2 separate regions of the Homo sapiens genome follow, and region 1 is linked to region 2. The links come from fine-mapping of genetic effects on gene expression. A gene starts in region 2. The other region holds a variant in brackets. All regions are shown on one strand. Distances are between the middles of the regions.

Evidence for each region. PIP is the estimated chance that this variant, and not a neighbour inherited with it, causes the effect.
Region 1: its variant is fine-mapped to the expression of IL34 in lung (TOPMed, PIP 0.90).

The regions. Positions count from the first base shown.
Region 1 is chr16:70,612,893-70,629,073 of GRCh38, reverse strand. It overlaps a transcript of IL34 not described here. Among named protein-coding and RNA genes, the nearest start is that of IL34, 26 kb to the left of the region's middle. RefSeq lists enhancers at 6,499-7,046, 7,047-7,594. The variant C/A (reference allele first, on the strand shown) is at 8,841.
Region 2 is chr16:70,639,048-70,655,228 of GRCh38, reverse strand. IL34 (interleukin 34) reads right to left here and starts at 8,670. Exons shown (of 6, transcript NM_001393494.1): 1 at 8,254-8,670; 2 at 558-691. The coding sequence starts at 8,281. RefSeq lists an enhancer at 4,938-5,438.

The DNA of each region.
Region 1 (16,181 bases), 26 kb after region 2:
CAGGTACAGTGACTCATGCCTATAATCTCAGTGCTTTGGGAGGATCACTTGAGGCCAGGAGTTTGAGACCAGCCTGGGCAACATACCAAGACCCTGTCTATACATTAAAAATACAAAAGTTAGTTGGACACAATGGTACATGCTTGCTGTCCCAGCTCCTCGGGAGGCCGAGGTGGAAGGATCATTTGAACCCAGGAGTTCGAAGCTATAGTGAGCTGTGATTGAGCCACTGCACTTCAGCCTGGGCATACAGTAAGACCCTGTCTCAAAAAAAAAAAAAAAAAAAAGACCAGGTGTGATGGCTCATGCCTGTAATCCCAGGACTTTGGGAGGCCAAGGCGGGTGGATCAATTAAGGTCAGGAGTTCAAGACCAGCTTGGTCAACATGGTGAGACCCCATCTCTACTAAAAATACAAAAATTAGCCAGGCATGGTGGCGGGTGCCTGTAATCCCAGCTGCTTGGGAGGCTGAGGTAGGAGAATCGCTTGAACCCGCGAGCCGGAGATTGCAGTGAGCCAAGATCATACCATTGCATTCCAGCCTGGGCAACAGAGCAAGACTCTGTCTCAAAAAAAAAAATAAATAAATAAATAAATAAATAAAAACAAACCCACACACTAGCCAGTTAGAAAAGAGACCACTTACATAACAACAAAAAATGTAAAATACCTAGAAATAAACTTATCAAGAAATGTGCAAGATATATACTAAAAAACTGTAAACAATGCTAAAGGACACAGAAGAGTTAAACAAATGGAAAAAGATATACTGTGTTCTTGGATGGGAAGATTTAACATCATAAGTAGGTCCAATTCTCTGAAGTTAATGTATAAATTTAAAGCAATCCCAATGCATTTCACAAGACAGTATATTTAAATGGCCAATAAATATATAATAAGGTGCTCGACCACAATTAATTACCACTACACACACACCCTAGAGTGAATAAAATTAAAAAGACCAAAAAAATCCAAGTGTTGCAACAATGTAGAATAATTGGAATTCTCAGACATTTCTGGAAGGAAGGTAAATTGTCACATATCTACTTGGAGAACAGTTTGGCAGTATTTTCTGAAATTGAACGTGTGCATATCCCACAGCTTAGCAATTTCTTTCGTAAGTAAATATCCAACAGAAATCTGTATACATGGGCACCAAAAGCCATGTGTTACAATATTCATGGCATGTGGATAAATAAACCTCACAAATAAAATGTTGAGCAAAAGAAACCAGATACAAAAGAATACACGTGTTTAAAGTTTTTTAAAAAAACACAGCAAAACCAATCTGTGACAAGAAATAAGGGCCAGGCACACTGGCTCACACCTGCAACCCCACCACTTTGGGATCTGAAGTAGGCAGATCTCTTGAGCCCTGGAGCTCGAGACCAGCTTGGACAACATAGTGAGATCCCATCTCTACAAAAAAATAAAAAGATTAGCCAGGTATGGTGGCTTGTGCCTGTAGTCCCAGCTACTTGGGAGGACTGCTTGAGTCCAGGAGACAGAGGCTGCAGTGAGCCTAGATAGCACCACTGTGCTCTAGCCTGGGTAACAGAGAGAAAGCCTGTCTCAAAGAAAGAGAAAGAAAAAGAAGAGGGGAGGGAAGGGGGAGGAGGGGGAGGGGAGCGGAGGGGGAGGGGAGAGGAGGGATGCACCTTTGGAGGGAGGGAGGGATAGTGAGTGTTTGGGGATCTGGTGGGGGGCTTCTACACGCTGGTAATAGTTGCAAGGGTGTGTTCACTTTGTGATAGCTCATCAAGCTGTATACTTCCAATTTATTTACTTTGCTATATGTGTGTTATACTTCAGCTTTCCTGTGTGTTTGTGTAATTAGATATTAGATGTTAAAGTTCAAATGGAAAAAAATGAGCAAGAATAGCCTGAAAGAGCTCAACATATAAGGGGAAGAACATCCCTTTCATATATTAAAATATATTTTTTAGGGCCAGGCTTAGTGGCTCAGGCCTGTAATCCCAGCACTTTGGGAGGCTGAGGTGGAAGGATCCCCTGAGTCCAGAAGTTCAAGACCAGCCTGGGCAACATAGGGAGACCCTGTCTCTATAAGAAACATATATATTTTTAAATATTATCAACCTTAATAAACAAAACAGTGGGAACTTGAATGAACATGAACAGAAAGAGAAACTAATGGAAAAGAGTAGCAAGTTCTGAAATAGACTCAAATACATACAGAGAAAAGAGCTCATGATAAATGGCTTATGATAAAATAGCTTCTCAATTTAGCTGAAAAAAGTCATCTGGAAGAAAAAATAAAATTAGACCTACTCCTCAAAGCACACATCAGGATAAATTCCAAAAGGATCAAAATTTGAATATAAAATAATAGAAGAAAACATAGGAGACATCATGTTTTTGGCCGGGTGTGGTGGCTCACACCTGGAATCCCAGCACTTTGGGAGGCTGAGGTGGGCAGATCACCTGAGGTCAGGAGTTCCAGACCAGCCTGATCAACATGGTGAAACCCCATCTCCACTAAAAATACAAAATTAGCCGGGCGTGGTGGCGCATGCCTGTAATCCCAGCTACTCGGGAGGCTGAGGCAGGACAATCACTTGAACCTGGGAGGCAGAGGTTGCAGTGAGCCAGGATTGCACCATTCCATTCCAGCCTGGGCAACAAAAGCAAAACTCTGATTCAAAAAAACAAAAACAAAAACAAACAAACCCACACACATCGTGTTTTCTTAAAGTGGGAAGGTTTTGGTACCTATGATTAAACATTCAGAAACCATAAAAGACTGATAAATTTGACTCCATAGAAATAAAAACTTGTATATACTAAAACAAAAAATTAATAAAATAAAAGAGACACACTAAACTGAATGCAATTTATATCAAAGGCACAAAAGACTGATCTCACTAATATGTAAACAGCTCATAGAAATAAAAAAGAAAAAGCCAACAATGTAATTTTAAAAATAAGCAAAACAGGCTGACTCTCTTTTTGGACTCAGCCCACCTGCACCCAGGTGAAATAAACAGCCATGTTGGTCACACAAAGCCTGTGTGGTGGTCTCTTCTCATGGACGCGCATGAAATTCGGTGCCGTGACTCGGATCGGGGGACCTCCCTTGGGAGATCAATCCCCTGTCCTCCTGCTCTTTGCTCTGTGAGAAAGATCCACCTACCACCTCAGGTCCTTAGACAGACAAGCCCAAGAAACATCTCACCAATTTCAAATCCGGTAAGTGGCCACTTTTTACTCTCTTTTCCAATCTCCCTCACTATCCCTCAACCTCTTTCTCCTTTCAATCTTGGCGTCACACTTCAATCTCTCCCTTCTCTTAATTTCAATTCCTTTCATTTTCTGGGAGAGACAAAGCAGACACGTTTTATCGGTGGACCCAAAACTCCAGCGCCTGTCACGGACTGGGAAGGCAGCCTTCCCTTGGTGTTTAATCATTGCAGGGACACCTCTCTGATTATTCACCCACGTTTCAAAGGTGTCAGACCACGCAGGGATGCCTGCCTTGGTCCTTCACCCTTAGCAGCAAGTCCCGCTTTTCTGGGGGAGGGGCAAGTTCCCCAACTCCTTCTCTCCCTCTCTACCCCTTCTCTGCTTTTCTGGGGAAGGGGCAAGTACCCCTCAACCCCTTCTCCTTCGCCCTTAGCGGCAAGTCCCGCTTTTCTAGGGGGCAAGAACCCCCAATCCCTTATTTCCGCACCCCAACCTCTTATTTCTGTGCCCCAATCCCTTATTTCCATGCCCCGACCCCCCTTCCCACTTTTCTGGAGGGTAAGAACCCCCGAACCCCTTCCCTCCATATCTCTATGCTCTCTTTTCTCTGGGTTTGCCTCCTTCACTATGGGCAACCTTCCACCATCCATTCCTCCTTCTCCCTTAGCCTGACTTCTCACGAACTTAAAACCTCTTCAACTCACACCTGACCTAAAACCTAAACGCCTTATTTTCTTCTGCAATGCTGCTTGACCCCAATACAAACTCAACAGTAGTTCCAAATAGCCAAAAAATGGCACTTTGAATTTTTCCATCCTGCAAAATCTAAATAATTCTTGCTGTAAAATAGACAAATGGTCTGAGGTGCCTGATGTCCAGGCATTCTTTTACACATCAGTCCCTTCCTAGTCTCTGTGCCCAATGCAACTCGTACCAAATCTTCCTTCTTTCCCTCCCGCCTGTCCCCTCAGTCCCAACCCCAAGCGTCACTGAGTCTTTCTAATCTTCCTTTTCTACAGACCCATCTGACCTCTCCCCTCCTCTCCAGGCCAAGCTAGGTCCCAATTCTTCCTCAGCCTCCCCTCCTCCACCCTATAATCCTTTTATCACCTCCCCTCCTCACACCCTGTCTGGCTTATAGTTTCGTTCAGTGACTAGCCCTTCCCCACCTGTCCAGCAATTTATTCTTAAAAAGGTGGCTGAAGCTAAAGGCATAGTCAAGGTGAATGCTCCTTTTTCTTTATCCCAAATCAGATAGCGTTTAGGCTCTTTTTCATCAAATATAAAAATCCAGCCCAGTTCATGACTTGTTTGGCTGCAACCTTGAGACGCTTTACAGCCCTAGACCCTAAAAGGTCAAAAGGCCATCTTATTCTCAAAATACATTTTATTACCCAATGTGCTCCCGACATTAAATAAAATTCCAAAAATTGGAATCTGGCCCTCAAACCCCACAACAGGATTTAATTAACCTCACCTTCAAGGTGTACAGTAACAGAAAAAAAGTTGCAATTCCTTGCCTCCACTGTGAGACAAACCCCAGCCACATCTCCAGCACACAAGAACTTCCAAATGCCTGAACCACAGCAGCCAGGTATTCCTCCAGAACCTCCTTCCCCAGGAGCTTGCTACACGTGCCGGAAATCTGGCCACTGGGCCAAGGAATGCCGGCAGCCCGGGATTCCTCCTAAGCCGCGTCCCATCTGTGTGGGACCCCACTGAAAATCGGACTGTTCAACTCACCTGGCAGCCACTCCCAGAGCCCCTGGAACTCTGGCCCAAGGCTCTCTGACTGACTCCTTCTCGGCTTAGCGGCTGAAGACTGACGCTGCCTGATCACCTCGAAAGCCCCGTAGACCATCACAGACGCCGAGCTTCGAGTAACTCTCACAGTGGAAGGTAAGTCCGTCGCCTTAATCAATACGGAGGCTACCCACTCCACATTACCTTCTTTTCAAGGGCCTGTTTCCCTTGCCTCCATAACTGTTGTGAGTATTGACGGCCAGGCTTCTAAACCTCTTAGAACTCCCCAACTCTGGTGCCAACTTAGATGATACTCTTTTAAGCACTCCTTTTAGTTATCCCCACCTGCCCAGTTCCCTTATTAGGCCGAGACACTTTAACTAAATTATCTGCTTCCCTGACTATTCCTGGACTACAGCTACATCTCATTGCCACCCTTCTTCCCAATCCAAAGCCTCCTTTGCATCCTCCTCTTGTATTCCCCCACCTTAACCCACAAGTATAAGATACCTCTACTCCCTCCTTGGCGACTGATCATGCACCCCTTACCATCTCATTAAAACCTTATCACCCTTACCCTGTTCAATGCCAATATCCCATCCCACAGCATGCTTTGAAAGGATTAAAGCCTGTTATCACTCGCCTGCTACAGCATGGCCTTTTAAAGCCTATAAACTCTCCTTACAATTCCCCCATTTTGCCTGTCCTAAAACCAGACAAGCCTTACAAGTTAGTTCAGGATCTGTGCCTTATCAACCAAATTGTTTTGCCTATCCACCCTATGGTGTCAAACCCATATACTCTCCTATCCTCCATACCTCCCTCCACAATCCATTATTATGTTCTGGATCTCAAGCATGCTTTCTTTACTATTCCTTTGCTCCCATCATCCCAGCCTCTCTTCGCTTTCACTTGGACTGACCCTGACACCCATTAGGCTCAGCAAATTACCTGGGCTGTACTGCTGCAAGGCGTCACAGACAGCCCCCATTACTTCAATCAAGCCCAAATTTCATCCTCATCTGTTACCTATCTCAGCATAATTCTTCATAAAAACACAGGTGCTCCCCCTGCTGCTCGTGTCCGATTAATCCCCCAAACCTCAATCCCTTACAAAACAACTCCTTTTCTTCCTAGGTATGGTTAGTGTGGTCAGAATTCTTATACAAGAGCCAGGACCGCACCCTGTAGCCTTTCTGTCCAAACAATTTGACCTTAATGTTTTAGCCTAGCCCTCATGTCTGCATACAGCGGGTGCCGCTGCATTAATACTTTTAGAGGCCCTAAAAATCGCAAACTATGCTCAACTCACTCTCTACATTTCTCATAACTTCCAAAATCTATTTTCTTCCTCATACCTGAAGCATATACTTTCTGCTCCCCGGCTCCTTCAGCTGTACTCACTCTTTAAGTCCCACAATTACCATTGTTCCTGGCCCGGACTTCAATCTGGCCCCCCACATTATTCCTGATACCACACCTGACCCCCATGACTGTATCTCTCTGATCCACCTGACATTAACCCCATTTCCCCAAATTTCCTTCTTTCCTGTTCCTCACCCTGATCACGCTTGATTTATTGATGGCAGTTCCACCAGGCCTAATCGCCACACACCAGCAAAGGCAGGCTATGCTATAGTACAAGCCACTAGCCCGCCTCTCAGAACCTCTCATTTCCTTTCCATCGTGGAAATCTATCCTCAAGGAAATAACTTCTCGGTGTTCCATCTGCTGTTCTACTACTCCTCAGGGATTATTCAGGCCTCCTCCCTTCCCTACACATCAAGCTCAGGGATTTGCCCCCGCCCAGGACTGGCAAATTAGCTTTATTCAACATGCCCTGAGTCAGATAACTAAAATAACTTTTAGTCTAAATAGACACTTTCACTGAATAAGCAAAGACCTTTCCTACAGGGTCTGAGAAGGCCACCACAGTCATTTTTTCCCTTTTGTCAGACATAATTCCTCAGTTTAGCCTTCCCCCCTCTATACAGTCTGATAACAGACCAGCCTTTATTAGTCAAATCAGCCAAGCAGTTTTTCAGGCTCTTAGTATTCAGTGAAACCTGTCAGGCCTCTGAGCCCAAGCCAAGCCATCACATCCCCTGTGACTTGCACGTATATACGCCCAGATGGCCTGAAGTAACTGAAGAATCACAAAAGAAGTGAATATGCCCTGCCCCCCCTTAACTGATGACATTCCACCACAAAAGAAGTGTAAATGGCCGGTCCTTGCCTTAACTGATGACATTACCTTGTGAAAGTCCTTCTCCTGGCTCATCCTGGCTCAAAAACACCCCCACTGAGCACCTTGCGACCCCCACTCCTGCCCGCCAGAGAACAAACCCTCTTTGACTGTAATTTTCCTTTACCTACCCAAATCCTATAAAACGGCCCCACCCTTATCTCCCTTCACTGACTCTCTTTTCGGACTCAGCCTGCCTGCACCCAGGTGAAATAAACAGCCATGTTGCTCACACAAAGCCTGTTTGATGGTCTCTTCACACGGACGCGCATGAAATTTGGTGCCATGACTCGGATCGGGGGACCTCCCTTGGGAGATCAATCCCCTGTCCTCCTGTTCTTTGCTCCATGAGAAAGATCCACCTACGACCTCAGGTCCTCAGACCGACCAGCCCAAGGAATATCACCAATTTTAAATCAGGTAAGCGGCCCCTTCTTACTCTTCTCCAACCTCTCTCACTGTCCCTCAACCACTTTCTTCTTTCCACTCTTCAATCTCTCCCTTCTCTTAATTTCAATTCCTTTCATTTTCTGGGAGAGACGAAGGAGACATGTTTTATCCGTGGACCCAAAACTCCGGTGCCAGTCACGGACTGGGAAGGCAGCCTTCCCTTGGTGTTTAATCATTGCAGGGACGCCTCTCTGATTATACAGGCACGCTTCAAGGGTGTCAGACCATGCAGGGACGCCTGCCTTGGTCCTTCAACCTTAGCGGCAAGTCCTGCTTTCCTGGGGCAGGGGCAAGTACCCCTCAACCCCTTCTCCTTCACCCTTAGCGACAAGTCCCGCTTTCCTAGGGGGCAAGAACCCCCTAATTGCTTATTTCCACACCCAAACTCTTATCTCTGTGTCTCAATCCCTTATTTCCGTGCCCCAACCCCTTCTCTGCTTTTCTGGAGGGCAAGAACCCTCCACCCCTTCTCCGTGTCTCTACTCTTTTCTCTGGGCTTGCCTCCTTCACTATACGTAAGATTCCACATTCCATTCCTCCTTCTTCTCCCTTAGCCTGTGTTCTCAAAAACTTAAAACCTCTTCAACTCACACCTGACCTAAAACCTAAGTGCCTTTTCTTCTGCAATGCCCCTTGATCCCAATACAAACTCGACAGTAGTTCCAAATAGCCAGAAAATAGCACTTTGAATTTTTCCATCCTGCAAATCTAAATAATTCTTGTTGTAAAATACGCAGAAGGTCTGAGGTGCCTGACGTCCAGGCATTCTTTTACACATCAGTCCCTTCCTAGTCTCTGTGCCCAATGCAACTCGTACCAAATCTTCCTTCTTTCCCTCCCGCCTGTCCCCTCAGTCCCAACCCCAAGTGTCGCTGAGTCTTTCTAATCTTCCTTTTCTACAGACCCATCTGACCTCTCCCCTCCTCGCCAGGCTGAGCTAGGTCCCAATTCTTCCTCAGCCTCCGCTCCTCCACCCTATCTTTTTATCACCTCCCCTCCTCACACCTGGTGGGGCTTACAGTTTCGTTGCGTGACTAGCCCTCCCCCACCTGCCCAGCAATTCACTCTTAAAAAGGTGGCTGGAGCCAAAGGCATAGTCAAGGTGAATGCTCCTTTTTCTTTATCCCAAATCAGATAGCGTTTAGGCTCTTTTTCATCAAGTATAAAAATCCAGCCCAGTTCATGTCTTGTTTGGCTGCAA[C/A]CTTGAGACGCTTTACAGCCCTAGACCCTAAAAGGTCAAAAGGCCATCTTATTCTCAAAATACATTTTATTACCCAATGTGCTCCCGACATTAAATAAAACTCCAAAAATTAAATTCCAGCCCTGAAACCCCACAACAGGATTTAATTAACCTCGCCTTCAAGGTGTACAATAATAGAAAAAAGTTGCAATTCCTTGCCTCCACTGTGAGACAAACCCCAGCCACATCTCCAGCACACAAGAACTTCCAAACTCCTGAACCGCAGCGGCCAGGCGTTCCTCCAGAACCTCCTCCCACAGGAGCTTGCTACATGTGCTGGAAATCTGGCCACTGGGCCAAGGAATGCCGGCAGCCCGGGATTCCTCCTAAGCCGCGTCCCATCTGTGTGGGACCCCACTGAAAATCGGACTGTTCAACTCACCTGGCAGCCACTCCCAGAGCCCCTGGAACTCTGGCCCAAGGCTCTCTGACTGACTCCTTCCCAGATCTTCTCGGCTTAGCGGCTGAAGACTGACACTGCCCGATCGCCTCGAAAGCCCTGTAGACCATCACAGACGCTGAGCTTCGAGTAACTCTCACAGTGGAAGGTAAGCCCTTTCCCTTCTTAATCAATACGGAGGCTACCCACTCCACATTACCTTCTTTTCAAGGGCCTGTTTCCCTTGCCTCCATAACTGTTGTGGGTATTGACGGCCAGGCTTCTAAACCTCTTAAAACTCCCCAACTCTGGTGCCAACTTAGGCAATACTCTTTTAAGCACTCCTTTTTAGTTATCCCCACCTGCCCAGTTCCCTTATTAGGCCGAGATACTCTAACTAAATTATCTGCTTCCCTGACTATTCCTGGACTACAGCTATATCTCATTGCCACCCTTCTTCCCAATCCAAAGCCTCCTTTGCGTCTCCTCTTGTATTCCCCCACCTTAACCCACAAGATACCTCTACTCCCTCCTTGGCGACCGATCATGCACCCCTTACCATCTCATTAAAACCTAATCACCCTTACCCCACTCAACGCCAATATCCCATCCCGCAGCACGCTTTAAAAAGATTAAAGCCTGTTATCACTCGTCTGCTACAGCATGGCCTTTTAAAGCCTATAAACTCCTTACAATTCCCCCATTTTACCTGTCCTAAAACCAGACAAGCCTTACAAGTTAGTTCAGGATCTATGCCTTATCAACCAAATTGTTTTGCCTATCCACCCCGTGGTGCCAAACCCATATACTCTCCTATCCTCAATACCTGCCTCTATAACCCATTATTCTGTTCTACATCTCAAACATGCTTTCTTTACTATTCCTTTGCACCGTTAATCCCAGCCTCTCTTCACTTTCACTTGGACTGACCCTGACCCCCATCAAGCTCAGCAAATTACCTAGGCTGTACTGCTGCAAAGCTTCACAGACAGCCCCCATTACTTCAATCAAGCCCAAATTTCTTCCTCATCTGTTACCTATCTCTGCATAATTCTCATAAAAACACACGTGATCTCCCTGTCCGACTGATCTCTCAAACCCCAGCACCTTCTACAAAACAATTCCTTTCCTCCCTAGGCATGGTTAGCGTGGTCAGAATTCTTACACAAGAGCCAGGACCACACCCTGTAACCTTTCTGTCCAAACAACTTGACCTTACTGTTTTAGCCTAGCCCTCATGTCTGCGTGCAGCGGCTGCCGCTGCATTAATACTTTTAGAGGCCCTCAAAATCACAAACTATGCTCAACTCACTCTCTACATTTCTCATAACTTCCAAAATCTATTTTCTTCCTCATACCTGACGCATATAATTTCTGCTTCCCGGCTCCTTCAGCTATACTCACTCTTTGTTGAGTCTCCCACAATTACCGTTGTTCCTGGCCCAGACTTCAATCCGGCCTCCCACATTATTCCTGATACCACACCTGACCCCCATGACTGTATCTCTCAGATCCACCTGACATTAACCCCATTTCCCCAAATTTCCTTCTTTCCTGTTCCTCACCCTGATCACGCTTGATTTATTGATGGAGGTTCCACCAGGCCTAATCACCACACACCAGCAAAGGCAGGCTATGCTATAGTACAAGCCACTAGCCCGCCTCCTAGAACCTCTCATTTCCTTTCCATTGTGGAAATCTATCCTCAAGGAAATAACTTCTCAGTGTTCCATCTGCTATTCTACTACTCCTCAGGGATTATTCAGGCCCCCTCCCTTCTCTACACATCAAGCTGGAGGATTTGCCCCACCCAGGACTGGCAAATTAGCTTTACTCAACATGCCCTGAGTCAGATAACTAAAATACCTCTTAGTCTAGGTAGATACTTTCACTGGATAGGTAGAGGCCTTTCCTACAGGGTCTGAGAAGGCCACCGCAGTCATTTCTTCCCTTCTGTCAGACATAATTCCTCAGTTTAGCCTTCCCACCTCTATACAGTCTGATAACAGACGAGCCTTTATTAGTCAAATCAGCCAAGCAGTTTTTCAGGCTCTTAGTATTCAGTGAAACCTTTATATCCCTTACGGTCCTCCGTCTTCAAGAAAAGTAGAATGGACTAAAGGTCTTTTAAAAACACACCTCACCAAGCTCAGCCACCAACTTAAAAAGGACTGGACAATACTTTTACCACTTTCCCTTCTCAGAATTCAGGCCTGTCTTCGGAATGCTACAGGGGGTACAGCCCATTTAAGCTCCTGTATAGACGCTCCTTTTTATTAGGCCCCAGTCTCATTCCAGACACCAGACCAACTTAGACTGTGCCCCAAAAAAACTTGTCATCCCTACTATCTTCTGTCTAGTCATACTCCTATTCTCCGTTCTCAACTACTCATACATGCCCTGCTCTTGTTTACACTGCCGGTTTACACAGTTTCTCCAAGCCATCACAGCTGATATCTCCTCGTGCTATCCCCAAACTGCCACTCTTAACTCTTGAAGTAAATAAATAATCTTTGCTGGCAGGACTATACTGAATCTCCTTAGGCACTCTCTAATCAGATGTCCTAGGTCTTCCCAATTCTTAGACCTTTTATACCGGTTTTTCTCCTTCTCTTATTCCATTTAGTTTTTCAATTCATACAAAATCATATCCAGGCCATCACCAATAATTCTACACAACAAATGTTTCTTCTAACAACCCCACAATATCACCCCTTACCACAAAATCTTCCTTCAGCTTAATCTCTCCCACTCTAGGTTCCCACGCCACCCCTAATCCTGCTTGAAGCAACCCTGAGAAACATCGCCCACTCTCTCTCCATACCACCCCCCAAAAATTTTCGCCGCCCCAGGACTTCAACACTATTTTGATTTTTCTTATTAATATAAGGCGGCAGGAATGTCAGGCCTCTGAGCCCAAGCCAAGCCATCGCATCCCCTGTGACTTGCACGTATACATCCAGATGGCCTGAAGTAACTGAAGATCCACAAAAGAAGTAAAAATAGCCTTAACTGATGACATTCCACCATTGTGATTTGTTCCTGCCCCACCTAACTGATCAATGTACTTTGTAATCTCCCCCACCCTTAAGCAGGTTGTTTGTAATTCTCCCCACCCTTGAGAATGTACTGTGTGAGATCCACCCCTGCCCGCAAAACATTGCTCTTAACTTCACCGCCTATCCCAAAACCTATAAGAACTAATGATAATCCAGCACGCTTTGCTGACTCTCTTTTCGGACTCAGCCCGCCTGCACCCAGGTGAAATAAACAGACATGTTGCTCACAAAAAAATAAATAAATAAAATAAGCAAAACAATATGAGTAAGACGGTCATAGAAAAATACATAGGCCTTAAACACATTATAAATTAAAATTTTTTCATAACAAATTTAAATTAAGACTACATTGAGTCACTGTTTTTCACCTATCAGATTGGTAAAAATCCAATGATATAAATCCAATTTAATGTGTTGGCAATGATGCGGGCAAACTAATTTTTCATCCAAAGCTGATGGAAGTGCAAATTGGTATTAACCTTATGGAGTGGAAATTGGCAATATCTCTCAAATCACAAATGCAGATACTTAGCAATGCCGTTTCTGGGAATTTATCCTGCATATACAGTATGCACCTGCAACAGGCCACGTGTATGAGATTTTTCATCTCATCAGCGTCTGTGATAGCAGATGGTATAACCTGCATGTTCACCACACAGTAGTATAGCATGATAGATTCAGTAAAACAAGCAAGACACTGAATGGTGTGTTTTCTATGTTGGAAGCTGTGTTCAGCAGAGGTGGCAAAGCTTTTATCTATAAATATCTGTGGAAGGAGTTTGAGGGGGGACGGATTTTTTTATTGAGACAGGATCTCAATCTGTCACCCACGCTGGAGTGCAGTGGTGCCATCTCAGCTTGCCACAACCTCCACTGCCTGGGCTCAAGAGATCCTCCCACCTCAGTCTTCCGAGTAGCTGAGACCACGGGTGTGCACCACCACACTCAGCTAATTTTTTGTATTTTTGGTAGAGATGGGATTTCACTGTGTTGCCCAGGCTGGTTTCAAACTCCTAAGCTCAAGTGATTTGCCCCACCTCAGACTCCCAAAGTGCTGAGATTACAGGCACGTGCCACTGCGCCTGGCACTTTCATCTACCTATATCTATATCTATATATTTGTATATGCTTGCATTTGCATAAAGTGAACATATTAGAATAATTCACACTAAAGCGTGAAAGATTGGCAACTCAGACACCTTTCAGAGACAGTGTATCTTTATTTTATTTATTTATTTATTTATTTATTTTGAGACGGAGTCTTGCTCTGTTGCCAGGCTGGAGTGCAGTGGCGCAATCTCGGCTTACTGCAACCTCCACCTCCCAGGTTCAAGCAATTCTCCTGCCTCAACCTCCTGAGTAGCTGGGACTACAGGTGAGCACCACCACGCCCAGCTAATTTTTGTACTTTTAGTAGAGACGGGGTTTCACCATGTTAGCCAGAATGGTTTCGATCTCTTGACCTCTTGATCCACCCACCTCGGCCTCCCAAAGTGCTGGGATTACAGGCGTGAGCCACCACACCTGGCCAGTGTATCTTTAAAAGAAGATGTTTGTTAACCCAAATAAGTCTAGAATTCGATGGACTTTTTGTCAGGGTAGTAAAATAAGTTGCAAAAATGCATACACCGTAAGTCCAGAGATTTGGGGGGTAACAGGGGAGCCATAGATCAGGAGTTTCTGTTTTCCTGAGGATCAGCTCTAATTAGATTAGACCCAATAAAATATAAACAGTTACCCGGTGAGGCCGGTTATGGGACAGGAGCAGGAAGAAAACTCTTTGCTATAGTTCTATTTTACATGATGTTGAAACCGTATGAGTTTATTCTCTAATCAAAATACTAAGCAGTAAAACAGAGGAGTTGCAGTTCATCAGCTCCTGAGCCTTGGGCAAGACCTACAAGATCTACCCCAGCTCCTGTTCCAACAGAGCCTCTGTCATTTATAATCAAGGAACAAATATTTACAAGAAGTTTTATCACCTGTAACAGCTCACTGACACTTGCCAGAAATGCTTTATGTGAATATTGCTATTGCAAGACACTGTGAGACACAAAGAGTGTAGGCAATTCACATAACTTCCCTTAAAACCCAGTTATCTCTTAGGCAGAGCAAAGATAAGGACAAACAACATCATGAAATTGCTGTGAAAGGCAAGTGTGTGCACATTTCTGAAAGCAGCACAAAAACAAAACAGGTTCCGTGTTCAGCAGCTGCACCACAGCTAAACCTCGGCTCCCATCACTGTTGAATCTGAGCTTCCATGCTTCTCAAACCTCAGCGGGCTTAAGAACCACCTGGAGAGGCTGTTAAAAAACACAGGCTCCAGGCCCCTCCCTCAGACATACAATTCAGTAGGTCAGGGGCCCATGAACTTGCATTTCCAGCATGCTTTGTCTCTCGGATGACACTGATGGGGTGGTGCAAGGACCACATTTGAGGAGTCTGCTCCAAAGAAGGGTTCCTCAAACTGTGCCATACAGACACATTACCTGGAATCTTGTTAAAATATAGACTCACTCAGAAAGTCTGGGGTAGGGCCTGGGATACTGCACTTCTTTTTTTTTTTTTTTGAGACAGGGTTTTGCTCCATTGCCCAGGCTGGAGTGCAGGGGCATGATCACAGCTCACAACAGCCTCAGACTCCTGGGTTCAAGCAGTCCTCCCACCTCAGCCTCCTGAGTAGCTGGGGCTACAGGCGTGCACCACCACGCCTGGATAATTTTTTTTTTTAAGAGACAAAGCCTTGTTGTATTGCCCAGGCTGGTCTCAAACTCCTGGCCTCAAGCAATCCTCCTGCCTCAGCCTCCCAGAGCACTGGGATTACAGGGGTGAGCCACCGTGCCTGGCTGGACTCTGCATTTCTTTCTTTTTTTTTTTCCTGAGACAGAGTCTCACTCTGTCACCCAGGCTGGAGTACAGTGGCGCAACCTCAGCTCACTGCAACCTCCACCTCCCAGGATCAAGCAATCCTCCTGCCTCAGCTTCCCAAGTAGCTGGGACTACAGGTGCACGCCACCATGCCTGGCTAATTTTTGTATTTTTAGTAGAGATAGGGTTTCACTGTGCTGGCCAGGCTGGTTTTGAGCTCCTGACCTCTGGTGATCCACCCACCGCAGCCTCCCAAAGTGTTGGGATTACAGGTGTGAGCCACCACTCCTGGCTGGACTCTGCATTTCTGACAAGCTCCCAGGTGCTGCAGATACCACTGGTCTGCAGACCACACTTTGAGTACCAAGGTTCCGGAATAGCCAACTCCAGTTGTTTCACAGATGAGGAAACTGCGCCTTGGAAAAGGTAAGTGACTTGCCAAGGGCACTTGTACAGTAAGGGTGGAGACCAGGTGAGGCCCCATCCAGTGTGGCCGCCATGCCTCAGGAAACCGCCCCGCTCCAACCCCATGTCCCCAGTCTACGCTACAAGCCTGCCTGAGCCAAGAAGGGATGCCAGCCCTTCAGAACATGGCATGGAAATTTACTAAATCATGCACAGTCCTTCACTCTCCGGAGAAATAAACCACTTACCAGGGAGATTAGTTCAAACCACCAGCCTCTGCAAAAATACACTTCTCACAAAATTATTTTTTCAGTTGCGTCACCTTCACTTCCAGTGACACCCCTTCGACCGGCCCTGCTGTGGGAACCTGAAGAAGACGACATGCATTTCTCAACAGATGTGGTCTGAGGCCGGGCACAGTGGCTCAGGCCTGTAATCCCAGCACTTTGGGAGGCCAAGGCAGGCAGATCATTTGAGGTCAGGAGTTCGAGACCAGCCTGGCCAACACAGTGAAGCCCCGCCTCTACTAAACATATAAAAATTAGCTGGGCGTGGTGATCCCAGCTACTTGGGAGGCTGAGGCAGGAG
Region 2 (16,181 bases):
TTGCAAAAATTAGCTGGGCATGGTGGCGCGCACCTGTAGTCCCAGCTACTCGGGAGGCTGAGGCAGGAGAATCACTGGAACCGGGGAGGTGGAGGTTGCAGTGAGCCAAGATTGAGCCACTGCACTCCAGCCTGGTGACAGACCAAGACTCCGTCTCAAAAAAAAAAAAAGATACATAGAGCCACACAGACATCTCCACTCTGCAAAAAGAACCAAATATTCCGATTTCTAGGTCTTTAGCTCCCTGGCTAATAAGTGCCTGGGGTTTGTCAAAGAGCTCCAGGTGTCCATTCCTGAGTCATATGGTGACTGCCATCATGGAGGTGGGATTAAAGTGAGATCGAGGAGGAGGGGTGGAGGCCCCAGGAGATGGCAGGAGGAGGGTCAGTAAGTGCAGACCAGGTGCATGGGTAGGTTTCGGAGAAAGGCAGAGAAACAGGCCATGGTCGGCTCAGGGCTGACACAGGTCCTAAGAAGGGCTCTGAATGTCCAGAGGCCTATGCCAGGTGAACCCCGGGACGCGGGGACAGGGACACAGCTGGTGCCCACGTGGTTACCATGTACTGAAGTCGGCTCCTGTACTGCAGCTTGTCCCGCAGAAAACCCGTGACAGTGCACTCCTCATTCTGCGTCAAGGGCCACATCTCCAAAGGCTCATTCCCCAAGGCCACGCCAAGGAAGATCCCAAGATCTGTGGACCACACCCGACAAGAGCACATGAGCACCCTCCATCTCATCCACGCCGTCCACAACACGCAAAGCCGAGCACAACCATCATCCATTTGCATAGGAGACAAGCACCAATGGGAAAGGTGTGGTGGGGGGCACGGGATCTGGAATGCTTTCCCTGGGGTCTGGCTCCAGAACAGCAAGGTCAGGCAGGCACTAGCAGTGCAGAGAGTCCACACCCACCCCATGCCGGCCACTGGAGCCCCCCAGGAGGCACGCCTCAGGGTCGACGTCTGGTCTCCCCGCTTCTGTCGCTCCGTGGGGCAGGCACAACCTCCCGCCCAGAACAGCCTCTGCCCCTGGTGTCCGGGTGATATGTTTTCAAAGCTCGTTGCTGGGTTTTCCAGCCCGGCATTCAGGAGATCGAATCATCCTGGATTCTGGTTTCAACTTGATAAAATGACTCTTCAGTCACCCACGCCCCACACCACTTTCCTTCCTGCTCTATCTGATCTTAGTGTCCCTCCCAGCTAACTATGCCAGCGGGTCTGTAGCGCCTTCCAGTCTGGTCATTCTAGGACGTTAAGCAGATCTCATACTTGGCTGCCTCTCTTCCTGCAACAAACGAGCCGCTGAAACATTACCATCCTTTGCCACTGGGGGTCACTGTGACTCCAAAAACAGCCTATACGATTTCCATGTGACTGAACAGAAAAAAAGGAGAGAATTCGCAACAAATATGAATAAAGGTTAAGTCCATCAGAGCAGAAAGAATAAAACAGAAGTAGGCCAGCAACTACCCAAAATATCAGACTCACTAACTAGATAAATAAATTCACATTAAAACAATCAGATATAATTTTTCTTTTTCTTTTTTTTGGTCACCCTGGCTGGAGTGCAGTAGTGGGATCATGGCTCATTGCATCCTAGAACTCCCAGACTCAAGCGATCCTTCTGCCTCAGCCTCCAGAGTAGCTAGGACTACAGTTGCATGCTACTACGCCTGCTAATTTTTGTATTTTTTGTAGAGACCTGGTATCGCCATGTTGGCCAGACTTGCCTCGAACTCCTGAGCTCAAGCAATTCTCCTGCCTCAGCCTCCCAAAGTGCTGGGATTATAGGTGTGAGCCACTGTGCCTGGCCCATTTTATTCAAATGAAAAAGTTTTTGTGTTTGTGGTTTTGGGTTGTTGGGGCTTTTTTTTTTTTTTTTTGAGACAGGGTTTTGCTATGTTGCCCAGGCTTGTCTGAAACTCCTAGTGTCAAGCGGTCCTTCCATCGTGGCCTCCTGAGTAGCTGGGATGAGAGGCATGTGCCACTACACCCAGCTTCCCAGCTTTTTCTTTTTTAGACAGAATCTTTCTCTGTCACCCAGGCTAGAGTACAGTGGCACAATCTCAGCTCACCGTAACCTCCACCTCCCAGGCTCAAGCAATTCTCGTGCCTCAGGCCTCAGCCTCCCAAGTAGCTGGGATTACAAGCAGGGGCTACTACACCCGGCCAATATTTTGTATTTTTAGTAGAGATGGGGTTTCACCATGTTGGCCAGGCTGTTCTCAAACTCCTGACCTCAAGTTGATCTCCCTGCCTCTGCCTCCCAAAGTGCTGGATTTACAGGCACGAGCCACCATGCCCGGTCATACACCCAGCTCATTTCGTTTTAACAATTACTACTTGATGTTGGCCAAGTAGTGAGACAAGTGCTGTCCTGGAAAGCAATTTAGCAATTTCTGTTATTAATCGATTTAGTAGTATCCGCACCCTTCAAACCACTAAGCCTTAAAAATGTCTATACTCTTTCACCCAGTAAATACACTTCTAGGAATAAATTGGAAGAAAAGCAAAAAAGATATAACCAATAAATTATGAACAAAGATGTACAGAGCAGCATTTATTTTATAACAGTGAAAATCTGGAAATGGCCTAGACGTTCCATAATAATGCATGTAGCCAATAAAAATCACATTGTCAAAGATGTGGCTGTGCTATGAGAACAATTAGATATGCTTAGTGAAGCTTAAAAACAGCATGACTCAACACTATCTGTGTTCATAGCATGACTACCAAATCTCTATGGGAGATTTTTTCATGTTTTTCTTTTCAAATAGGGTCTTGCTCTGTCGCCCAGGCAGACAGGTGCAGTGGCACCATCATTGTTCACTGCAATCTCAAACTCCTGGGTTCAAGCAATCCTCCTGCCTCAGCCTCCCAGTAACTGGTACTACAGGTGCCACCACCACACCCAGCTAATTTTTTTTTTAATTTTTTGTAGAGAGGAGGTCTTGCTGTTTTGCCCAGGCTGGTTTTGAACTCCTATGCTCAAGTGATGCTCCCACCTTGGCCTCCAAAAGTGCTGGGATTACAGGCATGAGCCACCACACCTGGCCTTGGCCTTGCAGGACATTTATTTTTATTTTTATTTATTTTTTTTTTGAGACGGAGTCCCGCTCTGTCACCCAGGCTGGAGTGCCGTGGCGCAATCTTGGCTCACTGCAACCTCCGCTTCCTGGGCTCATGCCATTCTCCTGCCTCAGCCTCCCGAGTAGCTGGGATTACAAGGTGTGCGCCACCACATCCAGCTAAATTTTTTTGTATTTTTAGTACAGACGGGGTTTCACCAGGTTGGCCAGGCTGCTCTTGAACTGCTGACCTCGTGATCCACCCACCTCAGCCTCCCAAAGTGCTGGGATTACAGGCATAAGCCACCGCACCCACCCAGGACATTTTTTATGTTCTATAATCCATATGTATTATTGTTACAGACAAAAGCAATAACCATCCTCTTTTTTTTTTTTTTTACAAAAGCAGTCAGGCAGGCTGAGTCACCTCCCTGAGCCACCCCCAGCTATGAGCAGGAATTACTGATTGGATTTTCCCCACTCCCCAGCATCTTGGAAGACTTTGTCCTTGCAGCCCCTCTGGTCTGGGCCACACCACCCATTTGCTACCTCCCCACTGCCTTCTCCAAACCTGCCCTGCTCAGGCCTCCTGCCTCGCCTTTGTCCCTGCAGGACCTCCCACCAGGAGTGCCCTTGCTCAGCTCAGAGCCTCAGGTCTCCTCAAGCCCTGTACCCCATATAGCCCCACATTTTTTGCTAAGTTGCAAGTCTGCAATCTATCTTGCACTTCCTCTCTCCCTCTTCCCCTGTGCCTGATACAGTATTGGGTGAGAAGAACAGATAAACATGAACTGAACCAGTGTTTGGCCCTTTAACATCTGCTTACTTTCTGTCCTAAGTCCTGAACCCCTCAGCTTAGCATCTACTCTTGCAGGTCAAGATCATCCCTGCCTCCTGGGCTCATGCTTTGCCCTGCGCTAGGTACCCTCTCACAACACAGACCTCTTTCAAAGCCTCCCAGAGACTCTTCTCTCCCCCCCATCACCACGCCAGGGTCTCCCCTTTCTGCATCAGCCCCCATCGGTCTCTGTCTCCAGCACCACCTTCCCCATTCACTCATGACCTGGGATTACAGGTGCGCGCCACCACATCCGGCTAATTTTTTTTGTATTTTTAGTAGAGACGGCGTTTCACCAGGTTGGCCAGGCTGGTCTTGAACTCCTGACCTCGTGATCCACTCACCTCGGCTTCCCAAAGTGCTGGGATTACAGGCGTGAGCCTGTGTGTGAATCCATAACGCAGTTAAACACTGCACAGCCCAGCGTGCTGAGAACTTCACATGTGCATTTGGGGATTCGCCTCAAGCAGTAGAAATGGGAGCAGACATTGTCATCCCTTGCAGAGCTCGTTAAGGCACAGGTTGTCCTGCCTGCCCCAGAGTCTCTGCTCAACCAGTCTAGGATGCAGAGAGTCTACCTTTCTAACAAGGTCCCAGGTAAAGCTGTGGCTGGGGGTCTGGAACCACAGACCTAGAGCAACAGTTGCAAGCTGGTGTCCCGAGAGCCACCTCTGGTCCACAAGGATTTCACACAACAATTCAAAATTTCAGCTTTTCTTTAAAAAAATCAGTACCTCTGTCCACACTGGGTCTTTTTTCCTGTGTGGCCATCACCATTGGCCGTCTACTTCACCTCCCAACCCTACAGCACCTGCCCTTCTCTGTGTCCCGTTCTGGGGCCCTGGGGACCCGGCAGCTGTGGCCTCAAGGCAGGGACTGTGCCTTGGAGTGACACTGAGCCTCCCAGCCTGACACGGTGGGCACACAGCTGCCCTGGAAACCCTGTCCACAGATGATCTGCCTCTCCCCCAACTGGGCAGCCTTCCTCTGAGTGCAGCCCAAACATCATTGCTAAGGGCAAGTTTCTTTTTTTGCTGCCTCCACCCACCCAGAGAAACAGGTTAACAAACAGGGACCAGGCAGGGACAGCACAGCCCCAACCTCAAGGCCACTGTCCCCCACATGCTCTGCACACCAGGAACCCCACAGCCAGTGCCACCCCTGACCTTGGTCAGGAGACCCACCCTGCCCTTGTCTTAGCCCAGAGGTAAGAACCCACAACACAGGCTGGGCACGGAGGCTCACACCTGTAATCCCAGCACTTTGGAAGGCCGAGGTGGGCGGATCACCTGAGGTCAGGAGTTCAAGACCAGTCTGGCCAACATGGTGAAACCCCATCGCTACTAAAAATACAAAAATTAGCCAGGCGCAGTGGCAGGTGCCTGTAGTCCCAGCTACTCGGGAGGCTGAGACACAAGAATCATCTGAACCCAAGAGGCAGAGGATGCAGTGAGCTGAGATCGTGCCGCAGCACTCCAGCCTGGGTGACAGAGTGAGACTCCGTCTCAAAAAATAAAAATAAAAATAAAATAATAAAACAACCTGCAAGACAGAGAGGAGGCTTAAGAAAGATCTGTGTGAGTACGGTACTCCCTTCCTGGTTCCCTGGCCCTGGGTTGACCCTATGTGCAGTGACAAGTGAGGCTTGTCACCCCCAGCCCCGGGGACCAAATCTGAACCTGTGCAGTGGGTTAAATAGCATCTCCTCCAAATCCACATTCACCCGAACCCGAGTGTGACCTTGTTTGGAAATGGGGTCTTTGTGAAGTAGGAGGTAGGACCGACTCCAGAGGCAGAGCCCTGACACTGGACCAAACTGAGGACTAGTGAAAACAGGGGTGGACGGGGCAGAAGCAGCATTCCAAAAGACATGCTCAGCAGTGTGCCATGTCAGTTTACCATTGCCATGGCAACGCCTGGGAGTTACCACCGCTTTCCATAGCAATGACCCAATGTCCCAAAAGTTACTACCCCTTCCCTAGAAATGTCTGCATAAACTGCCCCTTAATCTGCATGCAATTAAAGGTGGGTATAAATATGACTGCAAAAGGCCCCGAGCTGCTCCTCAGTACGCTTCCTCTGGCACAGCCCTGCTCTGCAGGAGCTGGCACAGAGCTATAACATCTCTTCAGTAAAGCTGTTTTCTTCTACCACCAGCTTGCCTTGAATTCTCTCCTAGGGAAAGCCAAGAACCCTCGCAGGCTAAGCCCCCTTGGGGGCTCGCCTGTCCTGTGCCACTTACAGGCATTATTAAATGAAGGATGTCAAGATTAGGCCATCCTGGATTTAGGCAGTTCCCTAAATCCAGTGACTAGTGTCCTAGGAAGAAGAGGAGAGGACATAGAGACACACAAAGGGAAAGGCCACGCAAAGACAAAGGGAGATCTGAGTGACTAGGCCACAAGCCAAGGAAGCCAGGAGCCACCAGGAGCTGGAAGAGGCAAGGGAGGCTCCTTCTCGGCACCTTTAGAGGGAACGCAGCCCTGCAGGCACCCTGATCTCACACTTCCGGTCTCCAGAACTGTGAGACGACACATTCCTGTTGCTCTAAGCCACCCGAAGCTTTCTAATTGGTTATGGCAGCCCAACTTCCTCAGCACCCCAGCCCCTGGGCACCAGCCCCCACCTCAATCTGCTGCTCTCCCTCTCCCTCATCCCCCAGCCAGTCTTTGCCTGGTCCTAAGACCCACCCCTCCTGGAGCTTTTTCCCCTCTCCCTTGCTTTTCTTTCTCTCTTTTTCTTTTCTCCTTTTTTTTTTTTTTTTTTTTTTTAAAGACAGGGTCTCACCCTGTTGCCCAGGCTGCAGTGCAGTGATGCGATCCTTGCTACTGCAGCCTCAACCTCCTGGGCTCAAGTGATCCTCCCACCTCAGCCTCCTGAGTAGCTGGGATTACAGATGTATGCCACCACACCTGGCTAATTTTCCTTTTTTTAGAGATGGAGTCTCGCTATGCTGCCCAGCCTGGTTTCAAACTCCTGGCCTCAAGCCGTCCTCCTGCCTTGGCCTCCCACAGTGCTGGGATCACGGGCGTGAGCCACCAGCCCAGCATCCCTTGCCTTTCATTCGCACCTCCACCTCCAGAATGACCCTCATTCCCTCCTGCACAGACGGTGACAGCAGTAACTCCTACAAACACCACCAGACTGATCTTCAAGAGCAGAGGAACTCCCAATCACGATTCCACCCCCGCCGGGCTCTCAAATCCTCCAGGGCTGCCTGCTATGGGGAGGGAGGCACACTTTGCTTGGCTCTCAAGGCCTCAGCCAGCCGGGTCCAAACCAGCTCCCAGCCTGGCCTCACCATCCCACCGCCAAACCTTTGCTCACACTGGCCCCTCTTCCTGGAACATGGGCCTCATGACCCCAGGTCTACCTGTGTGACCACCACCCCACCTTCTAGACCATTTCCAGTAGCCCCTCCCCCATGCTGCACCCCTGCTTCTCATGACCTAGGGGTTTCCAGAACATTGGGTCCAGCTGGGTCCTTCCACCCATCCTTAATGTCCCAACCCTTTGTTGTATATTTCCACAAGGGCCAGGGTGGACCCAACTCTTCTTTCAATCCCTCGCAGGCTCATACCCCAAACCTCCAACAGTTCCTGAGCACTCAACCCTGTGCCAGGCGTTGGAGACAGAGGCACGAGACAGCAAGGTCCTTGTTGTCATGGCAGTGACTCTGCAGTGGGCACGTGGGAGGCACCGGAAAAATGTGTTGAATTTGAGTCAATTGAACTGGATCTTGGAGACTGAGGGGATCTTGGTCTGGCCTCCCAGCCAGCAGGCATAAGAGGCTTCCAGATCCTTTTTTTCCTTTCTGTCCTCATTTCAACTTATTTTTCTTTTTACCAACAGTGTTATCTTTCTGCTTTTTAATTCTGTTCTGTTATGGAGGGAGGGTTGGAGGGGAACAGGCTGCCTTCTCCAGGCATCTGGCTGCTCTTCTGCCGTGGGTCTTGGGTCCCTAGACACTTTCACCAGCCCCTGCCCCCCTCCACCGGCCATACCCAGGACTGGGCCGCTGCTGCCCGCCCGGGGCTCCCCAACACCCACAAGCCTGGAAAGGTGAGATGCTGCCACCTACCCCCAGTGCCTGCCCCGACCTAAGACCACCCTGAGGACCATGCCCACCCAGCCAGAACTGCCCACCCAGCTTGCCCGTCGGAGCCCGAAGTGAGCGGCAGACAGGGCAGACGGCGGCCGTGGGAATCTCAGAGGGTGTCTGCAGTCCGGCTGGGAAGCATCGCAACTTCTCACCAGCAAGAATGCCCTGGTTGCTATGGTTACGGCAGATCCTGGATCTAGGCCAAGGCCTCCCAATGCAGGTCCCTAGGGACCCCCCAGTACTCACAGCGCAGCCAGGTGAAGCCCCGGGGCATGGTGGTGTTCCTCGTCCCCCTGAGAGCTCAGGCGCCGTCCCCAGCAGTGTGTCCACAGAGGCCTAAGCACGGCCTACATGGCCTCGGGGCAGCAGAGGTGGTCACTCAGTCAGGGAAGGGCTGGCCCTGGAGGAGTGGCTGGGCTGCGGGAGTGAGCAGGTGCCCCAAGGGCAGCAGCTGCCCTTATCTGCCCGGCAGCGTGGAGGACAGCCGGGGGGCGGTGGCCGCAAGTCCCATGGCAGCCCAGAAGCAGGTCTGAGCCGGTGGCTTGGGGGTCTTTCGGGGTCTTCCTTTCCAAGGAGCAGGAGGAGAGAGTCCCTGGCAGGCCCCTCGGAATCTGGGGCTGGGTGACGCTTTCTCTGATTTCTCCGACTGCAGCTGCTCAGTGTGAAATCTGGCTCTAGGAAGAGAAAGGAGGAGAGAAACTGATTATGTAAGAGCAGCGCTGCCACTCAGCCATCAGCCACAGCGCACACCGCACCCACGGCCTGCACAGGACCACCCGGCCCTGGCAGCTGGACACGGCTCACGTGAGAAATGACTTCAGGATGTCCGAACGGCCCTGGCCCATGAGTGAGTTATGATGACACCAGCTGGCAGCCTGGGGCCTGAACAAAAGCAGGACCAAGGAATGAACAGGTGGTTTGAGTTCACACATCGAGAGCCATGGTAGAGTCCATGAATGACTCAGGCTAAAGGACAGGTTAAAAAAGCAGACGAGCTCCCACTCCGAAAACAAGCCGGACGCAATGGCTCATGCTTGTAATCCCAGCACTTTGGGAGGCCAAGGTGGGAGGATTGCGTGAGCCCAGGAGTTCGAGACCAGCCTGGTCAGCATAGTAAGACCTCAGTTCTATTAATAAAAAAAAAATTAAGAAAAAAAAAATTTTTTTGAGACGGAGTCTCAGACTCTGTCATCCAGGCTGTAGTGCAGTGGCGTGATTTTGGCTCACTGCAGCCTCCACCTCCAGGGTTCAAGCAATTCTCCTGCTTCAGCCTCCCAAGTAGCTGGGATTACAGATGTGCACTACCATGCCTGGCTAATTTTTGTATTTTTAGTAGAGATGGGGTTTCACCATGTTGGCCAGGCTAGTCTCAAACTCCTGGACTCAAGTGATCTGCTGTCTTGGCCTCCCAAAGTGCTGGGATTACAGGCGTGAGCCACCGCACCCGGCCAGGACTAAGGTCTTTACATTCACTGAATCTCTCACAACAATCTCATGGAAGTGCAAAATCTCAGTTTATCAATGAGGAAACTGAGGCCCAGAAAGGTTAAGACACTTGTCCAAGGTCATACGGCTTGTAAGAAGTGTGACAGGAATTCAAACCCTGTGGGCTGGTGGCTGCTCCCAAAATTCGACAACCACACAGGGCTCAGCGTGTGTGCGTGGTCCTCCCATCTGCCCCTCTGGACTCTGCAAGGTCTGGACCATTGTGTCTGCTCTGCAGATCAGGCTGGAATTCCGTCTCTGATTTAGTTCTCTTCCATCCCCTCGCCTCCTCCCTGTCTCCCCTCTGGTGGGGGAAAATGGCTACAGAGTGACACCATCGGGGGAGAGCAGGTATGACTTGGGCATCTTCTTCATTGTGTGATCCATGGTGTCACCAAAGAATGCTGGCCCTTACCCTAAGAGGTGCCCAGCAGGCAGGCAGGGCCTTATAGAGAGAACACGGGTTGTTCAAGTTAATCCCTTATGCAGTCACCCTGAATCTCAGCCCCAGTCGCTGCCTGCTGCTGCTCCTCTTTTCCTTGTCCTTCCTCCTTTTCCTCCTTCCTCTTCCTCCTTCTCTTCCTCCTCCTCCTTCCTCGTCTTCCTCCTTCCTCCCTCTTCTTCCTCCTCTTTCCCCCTCCTCCTTCCTACTCTTCCCTCTTCCTTTCTCCTTCCTTCTCTTCCTCCTTCCTCGTCCTCCTTCCTTTTTCCTTCTCCTCCTTCCTCCTCTTCCTCTTCTTCCTCCTTCCTCCTACTCCCTTTCTCTTCCTCCTTCCTCCTCCTCTTCCTCCTTCCTCCTCTTCCTCCTTCCTCCTCCTTCTCCTCCCTCCTCTTCCTCCTTCCTCTTCCACCTCCTTCCTCTTCCTACTTCCTCCTCTTCCTCCTCTTCCCTCCTTCCTCTTCCTCCTTCCTCCTCCCTTCCTCCTTTTCATTCCTCCTCCCTCCTCCTTTTCCTCCCTCCTCCCTCCTCCTTTTCCTCCCTCCTCCCTCCTCCTCTTCCTCTTCCCCCTCCCCCTCCTCCTCCCCCTCCTCCTCCTCCTCACCCTGGCAATTCCCCTGCTGTTACAGCATCACTACAAACACTAACGTATCTAGAACATTTAGTTGTCATTAGTTTGGGGATTTTTTTCAGGTTTATTGAGGGCTAATTTACATATACTACATTTTACCCTTTTCAGTATACATTTCTAAAAGTTTTTAGCACATTTATAGAGCTGTGTAATTACTATAATAATCAAGATACAAAACATTTCCATCTACCCAAAAAATTCATTCCTTTATAGTGGAAGTTGTCTAAACAAACTGAAACAAGGTAGAATAGTATAACAGACCCCCATATAGCAGTTACTCAGATTCAAAAATTGTCAATCTGGCTGGGTGCAGTGTCTCACACCTGTAATCCCAGCACTTTGGGAGGCCGAGGCGGGTGAATCAGTTGAGGCAGAATAAACTCCAAGGAGAAGGGGAAAAAACAACTTCAAATACCAATAGAAAAACAAAAAAGTTATTTCCACAGAGTTGTCCATAAAAGGTCAGGACTTTGAGACCAGCCTGGCCAACATGGTGAAACCCTGTCTCTACTAAAAATACAAAAATTAGCCAGGTGTGGTGGTGCATGCCTGTAATCCCAGCTACTCAGGAGGCTGAGGCAGCAGAATCACTGGAACCCAGGAGGCGGAGGTTGCAGTGAGCCAAGATTGCTCCACTGCCCTCCAGTCGGGGCAACAGAGCGAGATTCTGTCTCAAAACAAAAGAAAAAAATGATCACTCTTCTGTCATTCCAGCTTCACTCATCCCCCAATTTTTTTTTCCAGGAATATTTTAAAGCAAATCTCAAACATGCCATTTCACCAGCATGTAGGGATTTTTAAAATATATAATCACAATATTGTCATCACACAACCCTCAAATTAATAACTCTTTAATATGATTTCATATAGAATCCACGTTCAATTTTCCCTGGTTATTTTTTAAATCTCTGATGTGCATCTTAAGTCTTTTTTCTTTTTAAAAATCAATATATAATTTGCATGCCATAAAATTTACCATTTTAAAGTGTACAGGCTGCGTGTGATGGCTCACACTTGTAATCCCAGCACCTTGGGAGGCCAAGGCCGGGGGATCGCTTCAGCCCAGGGCTTTGAGACCAGCCCGGGCAACATAGTGAGAACCCGTATCTACCAACAAAAATTTTTTTAATTAGGTGGGTGTAGTGGCACGGGCCTGTGGTCCCAGCTACTTGGGAGGCTGAGATGGGAGGATCACTTGAGCCAGGGAGGTCAAGGCTGCAGTGAACCATGATCACGCCACTGCACTCCAGCATGGGTGACAAAGCAAGACCCTGTCTCAAAATAAATAAATAAAGTGTGCAACAGCCAGGTGCAGTGGCTCACTCCTGTCATCCCTGCAGTTTGGGAGGCCAAGGCAGGTGGATCACCTGAGGTCAGGGATTCGAGACCAGCCTGGCCAATATGGCAAAACCCTATCTCTACTAAACATACAAAAGATTAGCCAGGCACGGTGGTGCGCACCTGTAATCCCAGCTACTCAGGAGGCTGAGGCAGGAGAATCACTTGAACCCGGGAGGCAGAGGTTGCAGTGAGCCGAGGTAGTCCCACTGCACTCCAGCCTGGGTGACAGAGTGAGATCCGTCTCAAAAATAAATAAAAATAAATAAAAATAAATAATAAAGTGTACAACTTTGTGGGTTTTTAGTGTACTAAGTTGTGCAACAGTCACCATTATTTAATTACAGAACATTTTCATCACCCCCAAAATAAACTCTGAACTCATTAGCAGTCACCCCCTATTCCCTCTTCCTCCCAGCCCCTGGCAGCCACTAATATTCTTTCTGTCTCTATGGATTTGCCTATTCTGGACATTTCATATAAATGGGATTGATTATGCAATACGGGACCTTTCATGTCTGGCTTCTTTCACTTAGCATGTTTTCAGGGTTCATTCATTTTGTAGCATGTTATGAACTGAATGTTTGTGTCTCTCCAAAATACATGTGTTGAAGTTGTAACCCCTAATGTGGTGGTTCCTGGAGATGAGGCCTTGGGAGATAATTAGGTTTGGATGAGGTCACAAGGATGGGGTCCTTATGGTGGGATAATGCCTTTATAAGAAAAGAAATCAGGCCGGGCTCAGTGGCTCACGCCTGTAATCCCAGCACTTTGGGAGCCCAAGGCGGGAGGATCACAAGGTAAGGAGTTCAAGACAAGCCTGACCAACATGGTGAAACACCGTCTCCACTAAAAATACAAAAATTAGGCGGGCGCAGTGGCAGGTGCCTGTAATCCCAGCTACTCAGGAGGCTGAGGCAGGAGAATCGCTTGAACTCAGAGGGCAAAGTTTGCAGTGAGCCGAGATCATGCCACTGCACTCCAGCCTGGGTAACAGAGTGAGACTCCGTCTCAAAAAAAAAAAAAAAAAAAAAGACATCAGAGTACGCTCACTCTCTCTGTCTCTGTCTTTGTCTCTCTCTCTCTCTGTCTCTTCCCATACTCACACAAAGAACTGGTCATGTGAGTACATAGTGAGAAGGTGGCCATCTGCAACCCAAGGGAAGAGCCCTCACCGGAAATCAATCATGCTGGTGCCCTGATCTCAAAGTTCCAGCCCAGAGAATGGTGAGAAAACAGATTTCTGTTGTTTAAGCCACCCGGTCTATGGTATTTTTTTATGGAAGGCCAGGTAAACTAAGACACAGCATGTATCCGTACTTTACTCTTTTTATTGTCAAATAATGCTCCCTTGCATGAATATCCCACATTTTCTTTGTCCATTTCAGATTGTATTGTTTTCTGGCTTCCTCCAAAATAACTAATGAGGATTTTTAGTGTCATTTTGAAATTATTAATTTTGGCCAGGCGCAGTGGCTCATGCCTATAATTCCAACACTTTGGGAGGTTGCGGGGGGGTGGATTGCTTGAGCCCAGGAGTTCAAGACCAGCCTGGGCAACACAGCAAAACCCTGTCTCTACAAAAAATACAAAAATTAGCCGGACAAGGAGGCATGCACCTGTACTCCCAGCTGCTAGGGAGGCTAAGGTGGGAAGATCACTTGAATCTGGGGAGGTGGAGGCAGCAACAGGCCATGATCATGCCACTGCACTCCAGCCTTGGCAACAGAGTGAGATTCCATCTCAAAAAGTAAAAAAAAAAAGAAAGAAAGGCAGGAAGGAAGGAAGGAAGGGAGGGAGGGAGGAAGGGAGGGAGGGAGAGAGGGAGGGAAAGAATTTTTTTAATTTATGTATTTCAATCCATTGAAGTTACTTTAAAGTCAGGCTTATTGAGGTGTAATTGATGGACAGTGAAGCTCACCTTCTTTAAGTATACAGTGCCCTTGGTTGGTGAACTTTTGGGCTGTTTCCACCTTTTGGCCATTATGAATAATATGGCTATGAAAATCCATGTGCAAGTTTTTGTGTAGGCATAACATTTTCTTGTTGTTGTTTTGAGATGAAGTCTCGCTCTGTTGCCCAAGCTGGAGTGCAGTGGTGTGATCTCAGCTCACTGCAACCTCTGCCTCCCAGGTCCAAGTGATTCCCCTGCTTAGCCTCCCAAGCAGCTATGATTACAGGCGTGCACCACCACTTCCGGCTGATTTTTTTGTATGTTTAGTAGAGACAGGATTTCACCATGTTGGCCAGGCTGGTCTCAAATTTCTGACCTCAAGTGATCTGCCTGCCTCGGCCTCCCAACGTGCTGGGATTACAGGTGTGAGCCACCACGCCCAGGCAACACTTTCAATTCTCTTGAGTATATACCTAGGAGTATATACCTATATACCCTGTATGTACATTCAGCCTTTTCTGGAAAAAGCAAAACTCCAGGGACAGAAATTATATCGGTGACATCCCAAAATGGGGAGTGGGGAAGGGGATTGACTGAGAAGGGGCGCAGGGGAATTTTGGGAGGTGAAGGAAATGCTTTAAACCCTGAATGAAGCGTTGGTATATTATTTGTTGAAATTTATCCAACCGTATGCTTAAAGAGGATGAGCTTTACCATACATCAACTATACTGCAAAAGGCCTGACTTAAAAATAACTTTAATTGATTGAAATATATATATTTAAAAACTAACTTTTTTTTTTTTTTTTATTGAGACGGAGTCTTGCTCTGTCGCCCTGGCTGGAGTGCAGTGGCAAGATCTCGGCTCACTACAACCTCCACCTCCCGGGTTCAAGAGATTCTCCTGCCTCAGCGTCCCAAGTAGCTGGGATTACAGGCATGCACCACCACACCCGGCTAACTTTTGTATTTTTAGTAGAGACAGGGTTTCATCTTGTTGGCCAGGCTGCTCTTGATCTCCTGGCCTCATGTGATCCACCCACCTCGGCCTCCCAAAGTGCTGTGATTACAGTTGACACAAGGTAATATAGCAAGAGGCTGTCCCTACAAAAATAAAAAATACAAAATTAGCCGGGCATGGTGGTGTGCACCTGTAGTCCCAGGTACTCAGAAGGCTAAGGCAGGATGATTGCTTGAGCCCAGGAGGCCAAGGCTGCAGTGAGCCACGATGGCACCACTGCACTCCAGCCTGGGTGATAGAGTGAGACCCTGTCTCAAAGCAAAACAAAAGAAAACAAAACAAAAAGTCTAGCACATACAATTATGTACAGTACCTAATACTTGATCATGATAGTAAACTATTAAATTTATTCTTTCTAAAGTTTTTCTTTTAAAAAGTGTCCCTGGTCTACAGCCTAGAGTTTCCTGATTGCAGATCCATGGTCCACTTCAACATGTTCCTCTGTCTTTTTTTTTCGGAGACAGGGTCTCCCTTTGTCACCCAGGCTGGAGTGCAGAGGCGTAATCACAGGTCACTGAAGCCTCTACCTCTTGGGCTCAAGTGATCCTCTCACCTTAGCCTCCTGAGTAGCTCGGACTACAGGCATGCACCACCACACCTGGCTAATTTTTATTTTTAGTTTTTGTAGAGACAGGGTCTCACTATGTTGCTCAAGCTGCTCTCAAACTCCTGGGCTCAAGCAATCCTCGACCCCGGCCTCCCTAAGTGCTGGGATTAGAGGCGTGAGTCACCACGCCTGGACTCCTCTGTCTTGTCTTTCTGCATGTTTGCAGTGGGAACAGGGTCAAGCTCAAGCCCTTCGTCACGATACAAGCGGTGCTGTGTTCTTTCAACAGAAGGCACGTGACAACTGCACTCCACTCTTTGCTGATGTTGGCAGGCAATGCCACTTAATGCCTAGATCCATTAATTCACTGAGGGCTGCTAATTGTGATATTCTAATTCATCATCTCGCTTTCTGATCAAGCGTTTCCCCATGAGGCAAGCAGAGGCAGTAGCAGATCAACAGCTTTGCCAAGATGTCTGATATAAACGCAATATTGTGCTTTCCTCCTATTTCTGGCCTCTGCCTGAAATCAGACAGTCTCCAGGCCCGTGTAATTTGTTTTCAAATGCCTGCTTCTCAAACAAGATTGGCTGGGTTCTGGACGTGCATTTTCCCATTATGACCCAAAGACATCTGAATGAATTTGATCAAATACACTCCTGGATCCGGGCTGTACATTTCTGGTGGGTGCCACCTATCTGTGATCAATGTCACCACATCTGGAAAGCTCAGTGCCACACCATATCCCAAGGGCATCTCCCAAGCTGGAGTGTTCTCAGGTGAAATAAAACATGAAAATCCATGCCAGCTTTACAAGCCA